Linked DNA regions of Homo sapiens: region 1 is linked to region 2. The links come from fine-mapping of genetic effects on gene expression. A gene starts in region 2. The other region holds a variant in brackets. All regions are shown on one strand. Distances are between the middles of the regions. Region 1 overlaps GRIK5 (glutamate ionotropic receptor kainate type subunit 5). Region 2 holds the start of GRIK5 (glutamate ionotropic receptor kainate type subunit 5).

Region 1 (8,000 bases), 33 kb after region 2:
GCCTGGCGGGTGCTGTGGGATGGGACAGAGGAGGAGAGGTGGTACATGCATCACCACCTGTGTCCTGCTTTGCCAAATGCCCCTTTCATGCCACCTTGGATTAGTCGGTGTGCAAAGATTTGTTAAGTGAATGAAAGAGACATGGAGTGGGGAGCAGGAAAAGGTCTGAGGAGGTCAAAGGCTTCCTGCAGGAGGCAGGGCTGAGAGCAGGGAGCACACCTCACCTGTGTGCTATGCCCAGCACCTGCTAGGGAGGGCCTGGCACATCATGGACCTGGAGGGCTGCATGTAGAACTCATACATTCACCCATTCAGTGGCTGTTTATTGAGTACCTACTATGTGCCTTGCCTCTTGCTGGGCATGGGATCCCACTGTGAGCACAGTGGATCTGGACCCTGCCCCCAAGAGCTTAGAGTCTCTTTGGGGCGCAAGACAGTGAATGACCACAGCACAGAGCTGTCTGGGCTGTGATTGGGGAGCTCAGAGGACGGTCCCAGAGGAGGTTCCTGACCCAGTCAGATATCCCAGTAGGGCTTCCCAGAAGAGACGATACCCAAACTGATTCCCAAAGGTCATGAAGGAGTTAGCAAGGTGAAGGGGGTGTGGGAGAAGGGGAGTGTATTTGGAGCAGGGGAAATAGCATCTACAAAGATGGGGCGATACTAGGGAGTGGGATGCACTGGAGGAACCAGCGGGGCCTGAGCGTGGGCAGAATTTGGTTGCAGCTGAGGAGGGATGGAAGGCAGGGCCATGGGAGGTGGCAGGCAAGGGTGCAGTGGAAAGGATCTTTGGGTGTCAGACACTCCTAGATTTGAATCCTTAAGTGTCATTTCTCTCCTCTGAACCTCAGTTTTCCCCTCCCTAAGATGGGGATAATAATACCTTGCAGGTCTATAGTGAGGGTTACGGGACGTGGGGACAAGTACCTCACACATCGCTTGGCAGATACTGGGGGACTGAAATGTAGTTCCTCTTTTTATTCCAGGTGGGAGAAACTATGGGCACAACTGCCCAGAGGCAGGACTGTGCCCTGGGAGATAAGTAGGCCCCTGATTAGGACACTCCCAGAGCTGGTGTGCAGACCAAGGGGCTGTGGCCAGAGATGGCCAGGGCAGCCTTGACGTTAGACTTGACAGAGCTCATCAGAGATTCTCACCCTCCTCTCTCTCATGCCAGAATTTACAGCATCCAACCCCCTGAACATCACGAGGGAAGACATGAGAGGGCCACTTTGCTTGACAAGGACGTTTATCCCTTAGGGCACTGACTTTCAAAAGTTATTTTGACAGAACTTTTTTTCCAATTGCAAACTCCCTCAGAACCCTGGGCAAGAGCAGAGCTGCTCTGGTGAAGGCAGAGATGGGGGTGCCTCCCACCCCACCCCACAGGCAGGTCCCAAGGCGCTGCCCCATAAAGCTGCCAGCTGGTTTGAAAACTTCTGCCCCAGGGTGAGTTTTAAGGTCAGGGTGAATTTTATTATTATTATTATTTTATTTATTTATTTATTTATTTTGGAGACAGAGTCTCCTCTGTTGCCCAGGCTGGAGTGCAATGGCACGATCTCTGCTCACAGCAACCTCTGCCTCCCTGCAACCTCCACCTCCCGGGTTCAAGCGATTCTCCTGCCTCGGCCTTCCGAGTAGCTGGGATTACAGGTGCGCCACCGTGCCTGGCTGATTTTTGTATTTTTTGGAGCAACAGGTTTCATCATGTTGGCCAGGCTGGTCTTGAACTCCTGGCCTCAAGTGATCCGCCCACCTCACCTCCCAAAGTGCTAGGATTACAAGTATGAGACACCACACCCAGCCCAGGGTGAATTTTAAAGCCTGAAGCCCAAAGAGGCCCCGGGTGAGACAGGAGATGAGAAGCCCCAGAGCTGACAGCTCTATGCCCACCTGAGGGCACAGGCTTCCTCGTGACCTGTTTCCACAGCCTGGTCTTTAGTCACGTAGGCTCAGAAATATTCTTTCATCTGGTATCCCAGAAATAAGCAGGCTCCAAGGGAGTAGCCCTGCACCTGAAGTCACTCTAAACTGGATGCCCTTTTTTCACCAACAGAGAAGTCTGGAACAGTTCTTATTTACAGCTGTCTGACCTTTGTGTCTCAGGGCCTACTCAGTAGGGTAGGGTGAGAGGATTTGGGGCCTGGGGCCAGCAAAGTGTGGCAGCTGAGAGTGTCTGTGGTTGGCTGTTTAAAGCTTAGCTCTGCTGTGCACTGGTTGTGTGGCTTTGGGCAAGTGCTTAACATTTCTTTAGGTTGTAGTTTGTTCAACTGTAAAATTGGGGAATAACAGCCCTTTAGCACATAGGGTTGTTTTGAAGAACAACATGCAGTGAAGAACTTAGAACAGGGCCTGGTGCATAGTGGGTGCTGTATGCGTGTGTCCTTTTTTTTTTTTCCTTTGAGACTGGGTCTCTCTCTGTTGCCCAGGCTGGAGCGCAGTAGTGCAATCACAGCTCACTGCAGCCTCCACCTCCTGGGCTCAAGCGATCCTCCCACCTCAGCCTCCCGAGTTGCTGGGACTATAGGCATATGCCATAATGCCTAGGTAATTTTTGTGTTTTTTGTAGAGATGGGGTCTGGCCCTGTTGCCTAGGCTGGTCTTGAACTCCTGGGCTTAAGCAATCCTCCCACCTCAGCCTTCCAAAGTGCTGGGATTATACTATTTTTATTATTGTTATTATTCATACCAGCATGGCCAGCACATACATAGATTTGTGTGTTCATCCATTTTCCATTCAGCCAATGTTTGTTGAGTGCCTACTGTATACCAAGCCCTGTGCTATACCCTGGGGATACCATGGTGAACAAGCCCGATGTGCTCTTACTGAGTGGGCTAAAGGGTTTGGGCCTCAGCAGAAAGCCCATGGGATGCCCTTGAAGAGTTTTGTTTTTGTTTTTGTTTTGAGACGGACTCTGGCTCTGCTGCCCAGGCAGGCTGGAGTGCCATGGGGTGATCTTGGCTCACTGCAACCTCTGCCTCGTGGGTTCAAATGATTCTCCTGCCTCAGCCTCCTGAGTAGCTGGGACTACAGGCGCATGCCACCACACCTGGCTAATTTTTGTATTTTTAGTAGAGATGGGTTTCGCCATGTTGGCCAGGCTGGTCTCAAACTCCTGAACTCAGGTGATCCACCTGCCTCAGCCTCCCAGAGTGCTGGGATTACAGGCATGAGCCACCATGCCCGGCCACCCTTGAAGGGTTTTGATCTGGCTCAAGTGAATTGGCCCTGGGGTTGGGGGAAGCAGTGGTAACAGGAAGACCAGTGAGGAGATAAGGAATGAGCTGGTGGGCCTCAGGCGGGAGAACGTCAGAGCTAGAGACTAGGGGAAGGGCTAAAGAGCACCAGGGCTTGGTGACTGCCTAGGGTGGGGGATGCAGGAGAGGACAGGAGGGAGAGCATTCCTCCTGTGTCTGGCTTGGGCATCTGGGTGATGGCAATGACATTTACAGGGAGAACACTGGAGGAGGAGCTGGAGCGTGAAGGATAGGCGGAGTTTGGCCTTGCCCTGCTGTGGGATAGCCGAGTGTGCC[G/A]AGCTGCACAGGAATAGTCACCACCGTCATCACAACAGCAGCAGCTGTCATTTGTTGATTTCACACCATGTGCGAGGAACTTTTCAAGTGTTACTTAACATAATTTTCATAGCAGTCCTTCATGGCCTGAGGATCACTGCCCAGTGTGAGATCTGGAGTCCCCAGTGCACAGGGCTGCAGCCAGGTGTGTCTGACTTAAGGCCCGTGCCCTTTCCAGCCCTCCAGCTGGGAACTTGGGAAGCTCGGAGTACACTGATGGAGTGGCACGCTGTGCCAGGCCCTTGTCTGAGCTTTCTGACTTGTCTCCATCCTTGACTCCTCATGGCCACCCAGTGAGAGAGGGACTGGTATTAGCCCCGTTTTCTCAAATGTACAGTGAGGCATCAAGGTTTCATGTCCAGGCCCATGGCTAGTGACCAGGAGAGCCAAGGTGGGCACCCCATCAGGGTGGCCCAGAGCTGGTGAGTGACTTCCAGATGGAAGACAGCCTGGGGCACCACCATCCTGCCAGTCACCCCTGGGCCAGGCACAGGTCTCCTTGGCCTGTCTTGAATTATGACCCATTTTTTCCACCCAGTGGCCATGGCTGACATTGGCCTTCTCCCTGCCATCACTGCCATGGTGTGAATTCAGGTCCCACCCCTCTCATCAGCCTCCTTACTGGCCTCCTGGCTTCTAGTCTCTCCACTCCCCAGCTTGTCCTCCAATAGAACCTTTCTACAGTGTGAGTCTGATCTGTCACTTGTATGCTTTAACTGAAGCCCCTGAGGCCCTCAGGATAAAGCTTAGCCTTCAAGGGCAAAGAAGATCTTAGGTCAGGGTCCCAGGAAGCTGACTCTGAGATGGAGATGTAGAGGCAGGAGGTGTGATGGCGTGCCCCTGGAAACCTGCCCTGTGCAGGAGGGAAGGAAGCAGGCTTGGGCAGAGGAGTTGAGCTGCGCTGCAGTCACAACTGGGCCTTAGCTGTCCCACAGGCAGCTCTGGAGCTGAGCTGGCCGTCAAGGACCTCCCCCTGTGGTAAGGGTGCCAGGCCTTTAAGCACCCACTGATATGTCACTGGACGTGGGCTGCTCTTGGGGAGAGTCAGGACTTTGGGTGAGGGGACGCTCTTCTACTGACAGAGCTGAGAGCCATCAGCCACCTACACCCTGGGCAGCTGAGGCAATGAGTGCCCCACTCCTGAAACAGAGTCTGGGTAGCCACCATGGAGTCCACTATAGCAGTGCACTGGTTAGGAGCCAGAAGGAGCCAGCTTCAGGTCCCCAGTGCTCCCACATGATCCCTGCAAAGCCACTTATCTCTGAAGGTCAGTCACTCCTCTTGAAAAGGGGCTAATGTTACCTCCCTCACAGAGGGTTTTTTTGTTTGTTTGTTTTTGTTTTTCTTTTTGAGGCAGAGTCTCACTCTGTCGCCCAGGCTGGAGTGCAGTGGCGTGATCTCGGCTCACTGCAACCTCTGCCTCCAGGGTTCAAGCGATTTTCCTGCCTCAGCCTCCTAAGTAGCTGGGATTATAGGAATGCACCACAATGCCCGGCTATTTTTGTATTTTTAGTGGAGACGGGGTTTCGCCATGTTGGCCAGGCTGGTCTCGAACTCCTGACCTCAAGTGAGCTGTCCGCCTTGGCCTCCCAAAGTGCTAGGATTACAGGCATGAGCCACTGCACCCAGCCAGTGAGTTTTAAGGCAATTAAATGAGAGCGCATTTGCACAGAGCCTGGCACATGCCTGGCTCACATGTGGTCACTACTGCTAGATACCTTTCTTGAGGCGGTCTGTATGTGAGTGTAGTTAGAAGAATGGGTTTTGGAGTCGGCTAACCCTGGGTTCAAATCTGGACTTACTCCTTACTGGCTTTGTGACCTGCAGGCAGGTGGCTGCCCCCTCTGAGCCTTAGTGTCTCCTCAAATGGGGAGTGGTGACCCCCTAACTTGGAGGGGTATCACAGGGGACAGATGAGATCAGCACAGGTCATAGATGCTGGCATGACCAAGACAATACCCACCCACCTCACCTGTGGCCTCCACACCCTGGGGATGGGAGCCTTGTCTACTTAGCTATGTCCCCAGCTCAGGGCCTGACACATGGCAGGTTTCTAGTAAATTAGTGTTGAATGGGCAATTGACTGATTCTATCAAGGAGTCTTTAGAAATGTTGTCCCCAGTTCTCTTCATCTGATAGAAGACGCACACACACGCCAGGCATGGTGGCTTACGCCTGTAATCCCAGTACTTTGGGAGGCCGAAGTGGGAGGATCACTTGAGCCCAGGAGTTCAAGACCAACCTTGGCAACATGGTGAAACCCTATCTCTACAAAAATTGAAAAAATTTAGCCAAGTGTGGTGGCATGTGCCTGTAGTCCCAGCCACTCAGGAGGCTGGGAGGTGGGAGGATCACCTGAGTCTGGGAGGTTGAGGCTGCAGTGAGCCATGATTGCACCACTGCACTCCAGCCTGGGCGACAGAGTGAGACCCTGTTTTAAAAAAATAGGCTGGGCACAGTGGCTCACATCTGTAATCCCAGCACTTTGGGAGGCCAAGGCGAGCAGATCACCTGAGGTCAGGAGTTCGAGACCAGCCCCGCCAACATGGTGAAACCCCATCTCTACTAAAAGTACAAAAAAATTAGCCAGGCGTAGTGGTGTGCACCTGTAATCCCAGCTACTCAGGAGGCTGAGGCAGGAGAATCGCTTGAACCTGGGAGGCGAAGGTTACAGTGAGCCGAGATTGCGCCACTGCATTCCAGCCTGGGCGACAAGAGTGAGACTCTGTCTCAAAAATAAAAATAAATAAATAAATAAATAAAGTCCATTTCATTAAAAAATTTTACATTATACTGTGTTTCCGGTTATAAAACATATTTGTATTAAGTATAATCCTATTTTGCACAACAATAGCAAGTATATATGCATTAAAAAGCATTTTTGCATACCATCAGAAATTTTCATAAGCAATTATTTGAGAAGGAACTCCTTTATTTTCTGTTTATATATGTAATACTAAATGATAAAATACCAAATGGTACAAATAGCAGAAACACTGGATATACATGATGTTCTTACACCTCAGAGACCATATTCCTCCAACTCATTTTCTACAAATTCATTAATACAGGTACATCTTTAAATTTCTTAATTTTTTTGAGACAGAGTCTGGCTCTGTTCCCCAGGCTGGCGTGCAGTGGCACGATCTTGGCTCACTGCAACCTCCACCTCCCAGGTTCAAGCAATTCTTCTGCCTCAGCCTCCCAAGTAGCTGGGATTACAGGCGCCCACCACCATGCCAGGCTAATTTTTTTGTATTGTTTAGTAGAGATGGGGATTTCACCATGTAGGCCAGGCTGGTCTCGACTCCTGACCTCAGGTGATCTGCTCACCTCGGCCTCCCAAGGTGCTGGGATTAAAGGCGTAAGCCACCATGCCCAGCCTAAATTTCTTAAATTTTTATTTTTGCAAAAATGATATCTTACTATACTTACTGCTGTGTAGTTTGCTTTTTTTACTTGTAACTTGGCCATCTTCCCACGTTAGTACACATAGATCTGCCTCATCTTTAAAAACAGCTACGTTTAGGCCAGGCGCAGTGACTCACGCCTATAATCCCAGCACTTTGGGAGGCCGAGGTGGGCGGATCACCTGAGGTTGGGAATTCGAGACCAGCCTGACCAACATGGAGAAACCCCATCTCTACTGAAAATACAAAAAAATTAGCTGGATGTGGTGGCGCATGCCTGTAATCCCAGCTACTCAGGGGGCTGAGGCAGGAGAATTGCTTGAACCTGGGAGGCAGAGGTTGTGGTGAGCCGAGATGGTGCCATTGCACTCCAGCCTGGGCAACAAGAGCGAAACGAAAACAAAAACAAACCAGCTACATTTAGTCATTCACTTACTGAATAACTACTGAGCAACTATTCTGCACCCACTGCATCCTGGCCACTAGGGGGCAGCAATGTAATGAGCAGAGGTGCTCCTTGTCCCCTCCTTCCCGCCCCCCGCCCCAACTGCTGATGTTCTAGTGGGGGAAACTGACAGCGTATGATATATTAATATCGTGTTAGGTGAAGCAAGGTAAGGAGATAAAAGTGTCTGGTGCGTGGATGCTGTTTTAGACAAGGTGGTTGGATAACGTTTGAGAAGAGACCTAAAAGGGGTGGGGAATACAGTCCTGAGAAGAGCCACCAGGGAGGGTTTTATGAGGGCAGAAGTTTGACTATTTTCCTTACTTCTGCATCCCCAGCGCCTAGAACCATCTGACACCCAGCTGGTGCGCAGCAAATAATTGCCAAGTGAAAGGATGGATCTGGGGAAGAGTGTTTTCCAAGTAGAGAGCCCATATGTATAAAGACTTGAGGGGAAAAGTGTGGTTGAGGGGAAAAAGTGAGGGGCAGAGAGATCCGAGAGCAGGGCCCACATCCCAGGGCCTCACAGTCACTGCTAAGGAGTGTGGCTGTTATTTTTTATTATTATT
Region 2 (9,900 bases):
TGCCGTTCGGCCAATCGACGTTCATGTCTCTGAGGCTTGGGCCAATAGTGAGGAGCGTCGAGATTCCCCGCAGCGCCCAACCAATCCTTTAGCGTCGTTCCCTCACCGGTCAGCCCTCGGGTGGATAGTGCCCGCCCCTTTAATCCTCCTTAGAGGATGCTCCTCCTCCTCCTCGACTCCGCCTCCGACGGCTCCAGAGGGGAACTCTGAGCGGAGGGCGGCGCGATGACGTTAGGCGGCGGAGCGCGGCCGCGGGCGCCATTTTGGGGACGCCGTGAGGGAGTCAGCGTTGGGGACAGGGAGAGGGAGGAAAAGAGCCTGGGAAATTGAGGCACGCGGCACCTTGAGGGCTGGAGCGGGGGAATGGAGGCACGGGAACCTTTGTGGTTTCCCCGAGGGTCAGAGGGAGAAAGTGAAACCACTTAGCGCGATGGGGAGAGGGCAAACTGCATGCAGCACCAGTCACATGGAGAGAGAAAAGGGAAACCAAGGTTCCAGACTCACTTTATTAAAAGGAGGGGAATGAAGGCAACAGGAAGAAACAGAGAAAAGACCGAGGGGACTTTTGGGAGGTGGAGAGAGGAGAAATGTCATAGGGGAAGCAAGGAGAGCGAGGATATGGAGAAAAAGAAGCAGGGACAATTTCATTGGAAGAAATAGGGAGTGTGGTGGGTAGAGGACCTGAAGGACAATCGGGGTGAGAGCCTGAAGGAAGTGAGCCGGTAACGGGCGGACTCCACTCCACCTCCTTCCGGGGTGACTCTGACCCTTACACCTCGAGATTGGGGCCCCATGTGTCCAAGGGGCTCTGGCCATTCCTACTCACCTCGTTCCTGCGCCCCTCAGGGCCTTGGGAGGGAGTTGCCCCAGTACTGTTAGAAACGTTTCCAGGCTGGGCGTGGTGGCTCACGCCTGCAATCCCAACATTTTGGGACGCTGAGGCGGGTTCACTTGAAGTCAGGCATTCGAGACCCACCTGGCCAACCTGGTGAAACTACCATCTTTACTAAAAATACAAAACATTAGCTGGGCGTGGTGGCTCGTGCCTGTAACCCCAGCAACTCGGGAGGCTGAGGCTCGAGATTTGATTGCACCCAGGAGGCCGAGGTTGCAGTGAGCCGAGATCACGCCACTGCACTCCCGCCTGGGCGACAGAGCGAGACTCCATCTGAAAGAAGAAAAGAAACATTTCCAGACCTACTCCTTGAACCCAAACACAGAGGAATTTCAACTTATCGGATGAGGAAACTGACTCTCAGAATTGTGTTATTTATTTACTTACCTGAAGCCACTATGGGATGCGTCTCACAGTGAGACCCGGGGCCAATTCTATGGCCATTTGGTCACTAGATGTCCTAACCTTCTCATGGATTAAATTCCCTAACACCAGGCATGTATAGTTAAAACAGATTCCCGGATTGGAATCCTGGTTCTAGGGCAAGTCAACTGTCCTGAGCCTAAGTTTCTAATCTGTGAAATGGGGCTAATAACAGCCCCATTTCATGTGAGCCCCATTTCATCTCATGTGAGGCAGAGAGTAAAAGACATCTAGGAGTTACTCATTTTATTTTTATTTTATTTTATTTTATTTTATTTTATTTTATTTTATTTTATTTATGAGACAGAGTCTTTCTCTGCCGCCCAGGCTGGAGTGCAGTGGCGCGATCTCGGCTCACTGCAACCTCCGCCTCCCAGGTTCAAGCGATTCTCCTGCCTCAGCCTCCTGAGTACCTGTGACTACAGGCGCTCGCCACCACGCCTGGCTAATTTTTGTATATTTAGTAGAGACGGGGTTTCACCGTGTTGGCCAGGATGGTCTCAATCTCCTGACCTCGTGATCCACCTGCCTTGGCTTCCCAAAGTGCTGGGATTACAGGCGTGAGCCACTGCACCTGGCCTATTTTTAAAATTTAATTTAATTTTTTTTTTTTTTGAGATGGAGTCTCACTCTGTCGCCCACCGCCCAGGCTGGAGTACAGTGGCACGATCTCAGCTCACTGCAACCTCCGCCTCCTGGGTTCAAGTGATTCTCCTGCCTAAGCCTCCTGAGTAGCTGGGACTACAGGCAGACACCACCACTCTCGGCTAATTTTTGTATTTTTAGTAGAGACAGGTTTTTGCAATGTTGGCCAGGCTGGTCTCGAACTCTTGACCTCAGGTGATCCACCCCCCCACCCAGCCTCTCAAAGTGTTGGGATTACAGGCGTGAGCCACTGCGCCCAGTCCCTAATTTTTTTTTTTTTTTTTTTTTTTTTTTTGAGACAGTCTAGCTCTGTCACCCAGGCTGGAGTGCAGTGGTGTGATCTCAGCTAACTGCAACCTCTGCCTCCCAGGCTCAAGCAATTTTCAGCCTCCTGAGTAGCTGGGATTACAGGCATACACCGCCATGCCCTGCTAATTTTTCCTAGTTTTTGGTAGAGATGGGTTTTTGCCACATTGGCTGGGCTGGTCTCGAACTCCTGGCCTCAAGTTGATCCATCTACCTTGACCTCCCAAAGTGCTGGGATTACAGGCATGAGCCACCATGCCCGGGTTTTTTTTTTTTTTTTATAGAGATAGGGTCTCACTATGTTGCCCAGGCTGGTCTCAGAACTCCTGGGCTCAAGCTATCCTCCTGTCTTGGCCTCCCAAAATGGTGGGATTACATGTGTGAGCCACTGTGTCTGGCCAGTTGTTATTTTTATTAGTATCTCCGGGAGCCTAATAATAATAACTAACATCTCTTGAGTGTATTATGACGTGCTAGGTATTATGCTCAATGCTTACATGCATTACTCAGTTTAATCCTCTCAACAACCCTATGAGAGAGAAACTGTCATGCTGACTCTACAAAACATCGAGGCCCCAGAGAAGTAACTAGTCGTAGTTCCCATAGTTAGGAAGAGTCAGGATTCCAACCCAGGAGTTGACCTTACAGTCTACATTCTTGGCCCCCAGGCTCACCTGCCTGCCAGGCAGGAAGTTCAAGTGGTTGCATGTTGAAGGGTTGAATGCAAGAAGTGGAGGAAAGAGTTGGTGGAAATTAGTGAGCTAAAGCTAGGCTCGGCCTGCTCTGAAGCAGTCTGGGTTTGCCCTTAGGGCAAAATCACCTGGGGTAGGTGACAGAGAAGTGGAAGCCATGCTCAGTTTTTGACAGGCTGTGTGACCTTGGGCAGATTCTTGCTTCTGCTGAAACCTCCTTTTCCCCACTTGAAAATCTGAGGATCAGGCTGGGTGCGGTGGGTCACACCTGTAATCACAACACTTTGGGAGACCGAGACAGGCCGATCACCCGATGTCAGGAGTTCAAGACCAGCCTGACCAACATGGAGAAACTCCGTCTCTACTAAAAATACAAAATTAGTCAGGCATGGTGGTGCATGCCTGTAATCCCAGCTACGCGGGAGGCTGAGGCAGGAGAATCACTTGAACCCCGGAGGCGGAGGTTGCAGTGAGCCAAGATGGCGCCATTGCACTCCAACCTAGGCAACAAGAGCGAAACTCCATCTAAAGAAAAAAAAAAAAGAAAGAAAGAAAAAATAAAAGAAAAGAAAACCTGGCCGGGTGCAGTGGCTTGCGCCTGTAATCCCAGCACTTTGGGAGGCCGAGGCAGGCAGATCACGAAGTCAGGAGATCGAGACCATCCTGGCTAACATGGTGAAACCCCGTCTCTACTAAAAATACAAAAAAAGTTAGCCGGGTGTGGTGGTGGGCGCCTGTAGTACCAGCTACTCAGGAGGCTGAGGCAGGAGAATGGTGTGAACCCAGGAGGCAGAGCTTGCAGTGAGCCGAGATCATGCCACTGCACTCCAGTCTGGACAACAGAGCGAGACTCCATCTCAAAAAAAAAAAAAAAAGAAAAGGAAAAAAAAAGAAAATTTGAGGATCCAGGTAACTTCTCAGGCCTTTTGCTTGGACTTCTCAACTTGATTTGGGTGGTGCAGGTCTCTTTTCTCCAGATCATATAGGAATAAGCTGAGGATAAGCTGAGGTCTTTCTGGAGGTGGTAGTGCAGGACTGGCTGGGATTTCCGGGACAGGTTGAATTTAGAGGGGATGGTGGTTGGTTTTTGTTTTTTGTTTTTTTTTTGGAGATGGAGTCTCGCTTTGTCTCCCATGCTGGAGTGCAGTGGCATGATCATGGCTCACAGCAACCTCTGCCTCCTAGGTTCAAGCAATTCTTGTGCCTCAGCCTCCCAAGTAGCTGGGACTAAAGGAGTGTGCCACCGGGCCTGGCTAATTTTTGTATTTTTAGTAGTGACGGGGTTTTGCCATGTTGGCCAGGCTGGTCTTGAACTCCCAACCTCAGGTGGTCCACCTGCCCCGGCCTTCCAAAGTGCTGGGGTTACAGGAATGAGCCACCGCCCTGGTCGAAAGGATGGTGTTCTGTGTTGAGGTCCTTCATAAGCAAAGTCCCAGAGGCAGGTGTGAATCTGGGCTTTTAGGCCTGACTGGAGTTAAGTGTGGATGTTTGAGGGGGCGGTGTAGATGTTGACCAAGTGGGGTAAGGAGGTGTGTGCAAAGTTGGTGGTCCTTCAGCGTCAGATATATGTGTCAGATGTGTGTCCAGGATGCCCCACATGCCAGCTTGCAGAGGGCTTCCTGTGCTGGGCTGGCATGTGGTCCAGGAGTTGCCATGTGCCAGCTGTGTGTTCGAGGCATGCGGTCACATATGCTGTGGGCCGCACGTGAGTGTGTCAGTGTCTCCTCCCCATCACGAGCATCGGGGGTGGTGGTGAGTCACGGGCTCAGCCTTCGGCGCCAACTGTCATGTTTCTTCCCCCCAAATTTCACCCCCCACCCAGCCATGCACCACCCACCCCCACTCCAAGATCTGTGTCGCTTCTCTCTTCCATCCCCCTGTCCTGCTCAGCTCCTTCTGAGAGGCTGCAGGGTGTTCCCTGGGAAGGAGTCTCCCACTTCTGGCTCTGCCCTCCAGCTTCCTCTCCTTGTCCCATCCACCTTTCCCACTGCCTCTCTGCTCCTGTGACTAGAGAATGAGGGCCCCTTCTCTCCACCCACTCATCTCTGTGGGTCCCAAGGATTTCTCTGTGCACTATAGGGAATTCTCATACTCACCACCCATCCCCTCACCTCTATAGGAGCTATTTATATTGGGGGAGGCTTGCCCCGCATCTCCAGGCTGGCAGCTCCTGCCTCAGTGGCTCTCTTGTGTCTATGAGCCACATCCTTGTCTTTTTGGTACCCTGGTGTCTGTAGGCCTCCCTTGTTTCTGTGACCTTCTTCGGCTCTCCTTGGCTCTCTCCCTGCCCTGTGGACCGCTCCCCATATCTGAGGAGTGCTTTCTGTTTCCAGGGGCCTCTCTCTTGTGTCTCTGGCTTCTCCCGTTTTCCTTCGCGGGAGGTCTCTATGTCCACATTACTGCCCCTTGTCTCCGAGGTCCTTTTGCTTGTCTCTGTAGGCTGCTCCCTTGTCTCCATGGGCCTTTCTTTCTTATCCCTGGGCTTTTCCTGTCCTTGTCCTTGTGGGGTTTGTGGGCCTCAGCCCACTTCTCTGGACAGTCTTGACGGCTGTCTCTCTTCTCTTCATTTCTCTTCATCTCTGTAGCCCTCTCCCCTCATCTCAGTGGCCTTCTCCCTGGGTCTTCTTGCCTCTCATCTCTGTGGGCTCCTGTGCCCAGGGCTGCCTGGGCAGGGCGGTGGCATGGTGTGGTAGAGGGGGTGGCTCGGGGGTGGGCCTTCCATCCAATGCAGCTCCTTCTTCTCATCAGCATTCTCCTCGCGGGGGGCCCCCAGCCCCAACCAATACAGGCTCCCCCTCCCCCGACTCACCTCCCTACTCTCTCTTTGCCTGCCTCCCTCCCTTCCTCCTGCCCGCCCTCCTCCCTGCCTCCCTCCCTCCCTCTTCTCTCTCTCCTGAACCACCCCACTGCGCTCCAGGACCCAGCGCAGGCGGCAGGCGGGCAGGCAGGCGGCGGCCTCGGAGGGGAGACTGAGCGGTGGCGGCAGCCAGCGGCAGGGAGGCAGGCCCAGCCGGGGACTGGAGCCGGGGACTGGAGCCGGCTCCTCACAGGGGACCAGGAGTGTGTCGCCAGGCCCTCCCACTGAGGCCCAGCACCGGGAGCCCCTGGGACACCCCACCCTCCTCCGCCTTTCTCTTCCACCTGCTCCTCTCCATCCTCCTCTCCCTCCTCCCTATCTCTCCACCTCATTTGCCCCCTTCTTGGCCTCTCCGGGTCTCCCAGCTCTCCATCCTCCCCAGCTCTCCACTCCCGGGCTCTCCCCGCCCCCAGCATGCTTTTCCCGTGGGGGCTGAGGGCTTGAGGACTCCGGGCCCTTGCCTCAACCAGGGCAGGGCCCAGGCTCCAGGGGGGAGGGGGAAAGGGGGCGGCCCCCTCCCCCAGCAGGCCCTCCCCTCCCCCACTTCTCCTGATGGCCGGCTTCCTTTTCTCCACCCAGTCCTCGCCCCCTGTGGCCCCCCCAGGCCGGCCCGGCTAGGGGAGGGGGCGGGGGCCCTTTCCTGGGCCAGCTTCCCCCTCCCCCGGCTTTGCCTGTGCCCCCCCCTTCCGTTTTCACCTTCCTCTCCTCCTTTCCTCCCTCCTTCCCCTCCATTTGCTCCTTCCCCCTCTCCTCTCTCCCCTTCTCTCCTCCATTTTCTCCTTTCCCCTTCCTCCCCTCCCCGGCCCGCCCTCTCCTCTTCCACCTGTCCTTCCTCCCTGCTCCTGTGGAGCCACCGTTTTGGATTAGTTGGGAGCCACCACCGGCGGCGGGGGAGGGGGCCCTGTGGACTGCCCTCTCCCCCCGCCCAGCCCCACCACCACCCAGCGCCAGAGCACCTCCCGCTGTCGGTCTTCGGGCCTCGAGGGAGCCCAGCCCTCCGTCCCACCAGGATCCGTGAGTGTCTGCAGGGCAGGGATTGGGCTGGGTTCTGGGTCCTGGAAGGCTGGGCTCTGGTGCCGCCTGGCAGGGGGGCACCACATTCTCCCCGTTCTCCGGACTGGCAAGTACCCTCCCCCACTAGGGGCCTGCTCTGCGCCCTCCATCTCCTCAGCGTCCATTCACCTCGACCTCTTCTCACCTCTTCTTCTGGGTACATAGCTCACTGCCGCCCCTGGCCCTCTAGCTTTCTGGGGTCCTACGGGGCTGATTGCTCTTACTTGGGCTCTCACTTACCCCGGGCCCCTGGCATGTCCGTGCCCCTGCTGTCTCCAAGCCTCCGTCCTGGTCCCAGACTGGCTCTTTCTGTTCCTCTGAGCCTCATCCTCTGCCTGCGGTGGGCCTTGGCCCTGTCCCCACCCCGTCCAGTCTCTATCTCCTGGATATGTCTTTCCGCTTTTGAGCCCCCATTTCCTGTGTCTCTTGGGCCCCTCTCTGACTCTGCCCAACTTCTCTCTTTGCTGTTAGCCCAGGTTGCTCTCGGCATGTCTCTGTTTAGATCCCTCTCTCTGTCAGAACTCCTCCACCCTGGCTTCCCTCTTTCCAAGTCTCCCTCGGCAGGTCTCTTTCCATTTCTCTTTCTATTCTGTGCCTCCGCTCACCTGTCCTCCTCCCTCTCTCTGCCTCTGAGCTTGGAGGCTGTCTTCCCTCTGTCACTTTTCCACCTCTTTCCCCCAGATCCACTCTGGGTGCCCGGCTCCTCAGTCCCTCCCTCCTCAGCTGCTGCCCCACCTCTCCGTGGTCCATGCTGACTTTTCCTGGCTGGTCTGGCTCTTTCCACTCCCATTCTCTCTCCCGACTTCTGTGTTACCTCGCGTGGCCTTTCTGCTCCCATTCCTCTCCATGTCTGGGGGCTTTCAGGCCCCAGGATCTCCTGCTCCCCCACACGGCATTCCTGAGTGTCTTGGGGTGGCTATGCCTCTGTGTGGGTCTGGCCTCTCCTGCAGGTGCTTGCCCTGTCCCTGCCTGTGCCCCTCTAGTGCACTCACTCCATCTCCCCACCTCAGTTTCCCTCCCTGACTCCCCCTTTCTCTCTCCCAGGTGCTTTTCCCCCTTGCCCCTTCCTCTTCTATGGGCCTGTCGTGCAGCTCCGACATACTGTCTCTCTTTCCGACTGGCCCTCTCTCTTTGTAGAGTTTGGCCATTTCTTTCCTTCTCCCAAGTCTTGTACCTGCTGCTGTTTCTTTATCTCCCTTTGCCTTCTCCCTCACCCTGTGTGCCTTCGCTGGCCCTCCTTGCCTCTCACCTTTGCTGATGTCTCTCCTATGCCCACTGTTGCTCAGCTCTCTGCTGGGTTTTGACTTTTATCTGGCTTTGCCCAGTCTCTGGGGCTGAGTCCTGGACCTGCCTGACACCCTACCTGCCCTGTCTCTGTCTCCTTTGCTGTCTCACTTCTAGGCTGTGTCTGTCTCTTGCTCTCTCACTTAGCCTCAGTTCCTACGTCTTGGGCTGTCTTTCTGTGTGTATCTCTGTGTCCACCTGCTGCCCCTCAACCCTGTCTTTCTCTGTCTGCTCCCACCTTTGGCTGCCACCTGTGGGTCCCTGTCCTTCTGTCCCATCTCTCCCTCGGTCTTTCTGTCCTTTGTCCTCTGCTCCCTGATTTGCCCCAGGAGTCCCTGGTGTCTCAGGATGACCCACTCCACTCCTGCCTCTCTCCTAGCTCCGCCCTTCACACTCCTCCCACTCTGAGCGCTCCTCCGGGTCTCCCAGCATCCCTTGTGCCTCCATCCTTGACAAGCCTTCACCTTAATCCACATTATAGTTTGCAGTCCCCAGCCTGTCCAGCATACCCTCCCACCTAGCACTCTCTTCTTCTCAGAGGCCTAGAAGGCAGTGACTTGCTCAAGATCACGCAGTGAGTCAGGGGCAGAGCTGGGACTGATCCCCAGCCTAGGTTTTGCAGGCCACTTGAGATGGTGAGAAGGACTTGTGCCTCTATCCTTCCCTCGAAGTTCTCATTCCACAGTTTCACCAGCTCAAGCTGTCCTTCCATGGGGACTGAGTGGGGTCCGGTGTCCAGGCCCACTTCACAGCATTCTGTGCCCCCCACAGTAACCCTACTCCATGGAAACCCAAGCATCCCTTCCCGTGGGGCACAGCCCTCAGCCAGGGGAAGTGGAGCTGTGCATCTGGCCAAACTCCTTGCCCAGTGGTTGCCCTGCAGAAAGCTGGGGTGCCTAGAGGAATCCCTGACTCCTTAGGGGTGGAGAGTTGTGAAGAGCAAAGATGCACCATCTCCCCCTTTACTTCTTCTCCCCAGTAGGGTGGGGGGCAGTGGTATGGCACCCACTTCTGGCAGGCAGCTCCACTCCCTGCCTTACTCACTCCTCCCTTCCAGCTCTTCCTGCTTGTATCCGAGTCGGTTCCTATCTTTTCTCCATCCTCTGTCTCCCTCTTCCTGTGTCTCGCCTGTGCCTTGGTTTCCCCACCTCCAGCCTGCCCCTCTTTCCTCCGCTCCCTGCTCTGTCCTTTCTTTATCTTGCCTCCTCATCCTCCTGTCTCTTCCCTCTTTCTCCCTCCTAGTCCTCTCCCTGCCTCCCTGTAACTCTCCTCTTTTCTCTCCATTTCTACCCCCATTTTCCTATTGTCTTGTCTTTCTCTTCCCTTGTATTTCTATCTATTTTGACCTTTCTCTCTTTCTGAGTCTCTCTGTCTTTCCCTTCTCTAAGCCTCTCTTTCACTTTCTCTGTTTCCTCCCTTCTCTCTCTTTGCTTTTTTTTTTTTTCCCCCTTTTACTGCTCTGGGTCCATTCATCTATGGGGTTCTGTGTGTGCCTCTCTCTCTTTTTCTCCATCTCTCCATCTCTCCCGAAGTTTCCTAACTCCCAGATACTCTCTCCTCCAGACCTCGGATGTCCAGGCCTCTCTCCCCATGGGATTGTGGGAACTGGGGATGTTAGGAAAGTGGCAAGTGAGGCCTGGGATGGGGTTGCCTAGCAACCACCGCATCCTCTCCAGCCGGTTTCTGTTGCCTAGTAACGGCTGCCTGCCCAGAGACAGGGGCGGGACTGGGTGGGGGGTGGCACT

Evidence for each region.
Region 1: its variant is fine-mapped to the expression of GRIK5 in skeletal muscle (GTEx, PIP above 0.99). The same link has a PIP of 0.9 or more in left ventricle.

The regions. Positions count from the first base shown.
Region 1 is chr19:42,034,385-42,042,384 of GRCh38, reverse strand. All of the region lies in intron 12 of GRIK5 (glutamate ionotropic receptor kainate type subunit 5), which reads left to right. Among named protein-coding and RNA genes, the nearest start is that of GRIK5, 32 kb to the left of the region's middle. RefSeq lists enhancers at 6,597-7,096, 7,314-7,363, 7,294-7,588, 7,334-7,628. The variant G/A (reference allele first, on the strand shown) is at 3,538.
Region 2 is chr19:42,066,173-42,076,072 of GRCh38, reverse strand. It overlaps GRIK5 (glutamate ionotropic receptor kainate type subunit 5), which reads left to right and starts at 5,867. Exons shown (of 20, transcript NM_002088.5): 1 at 5,867-6,832. It also overlaps a transcript of ZNF574 not described here. RefSeq lists enhancers at 208-327, 548-597, 678-747.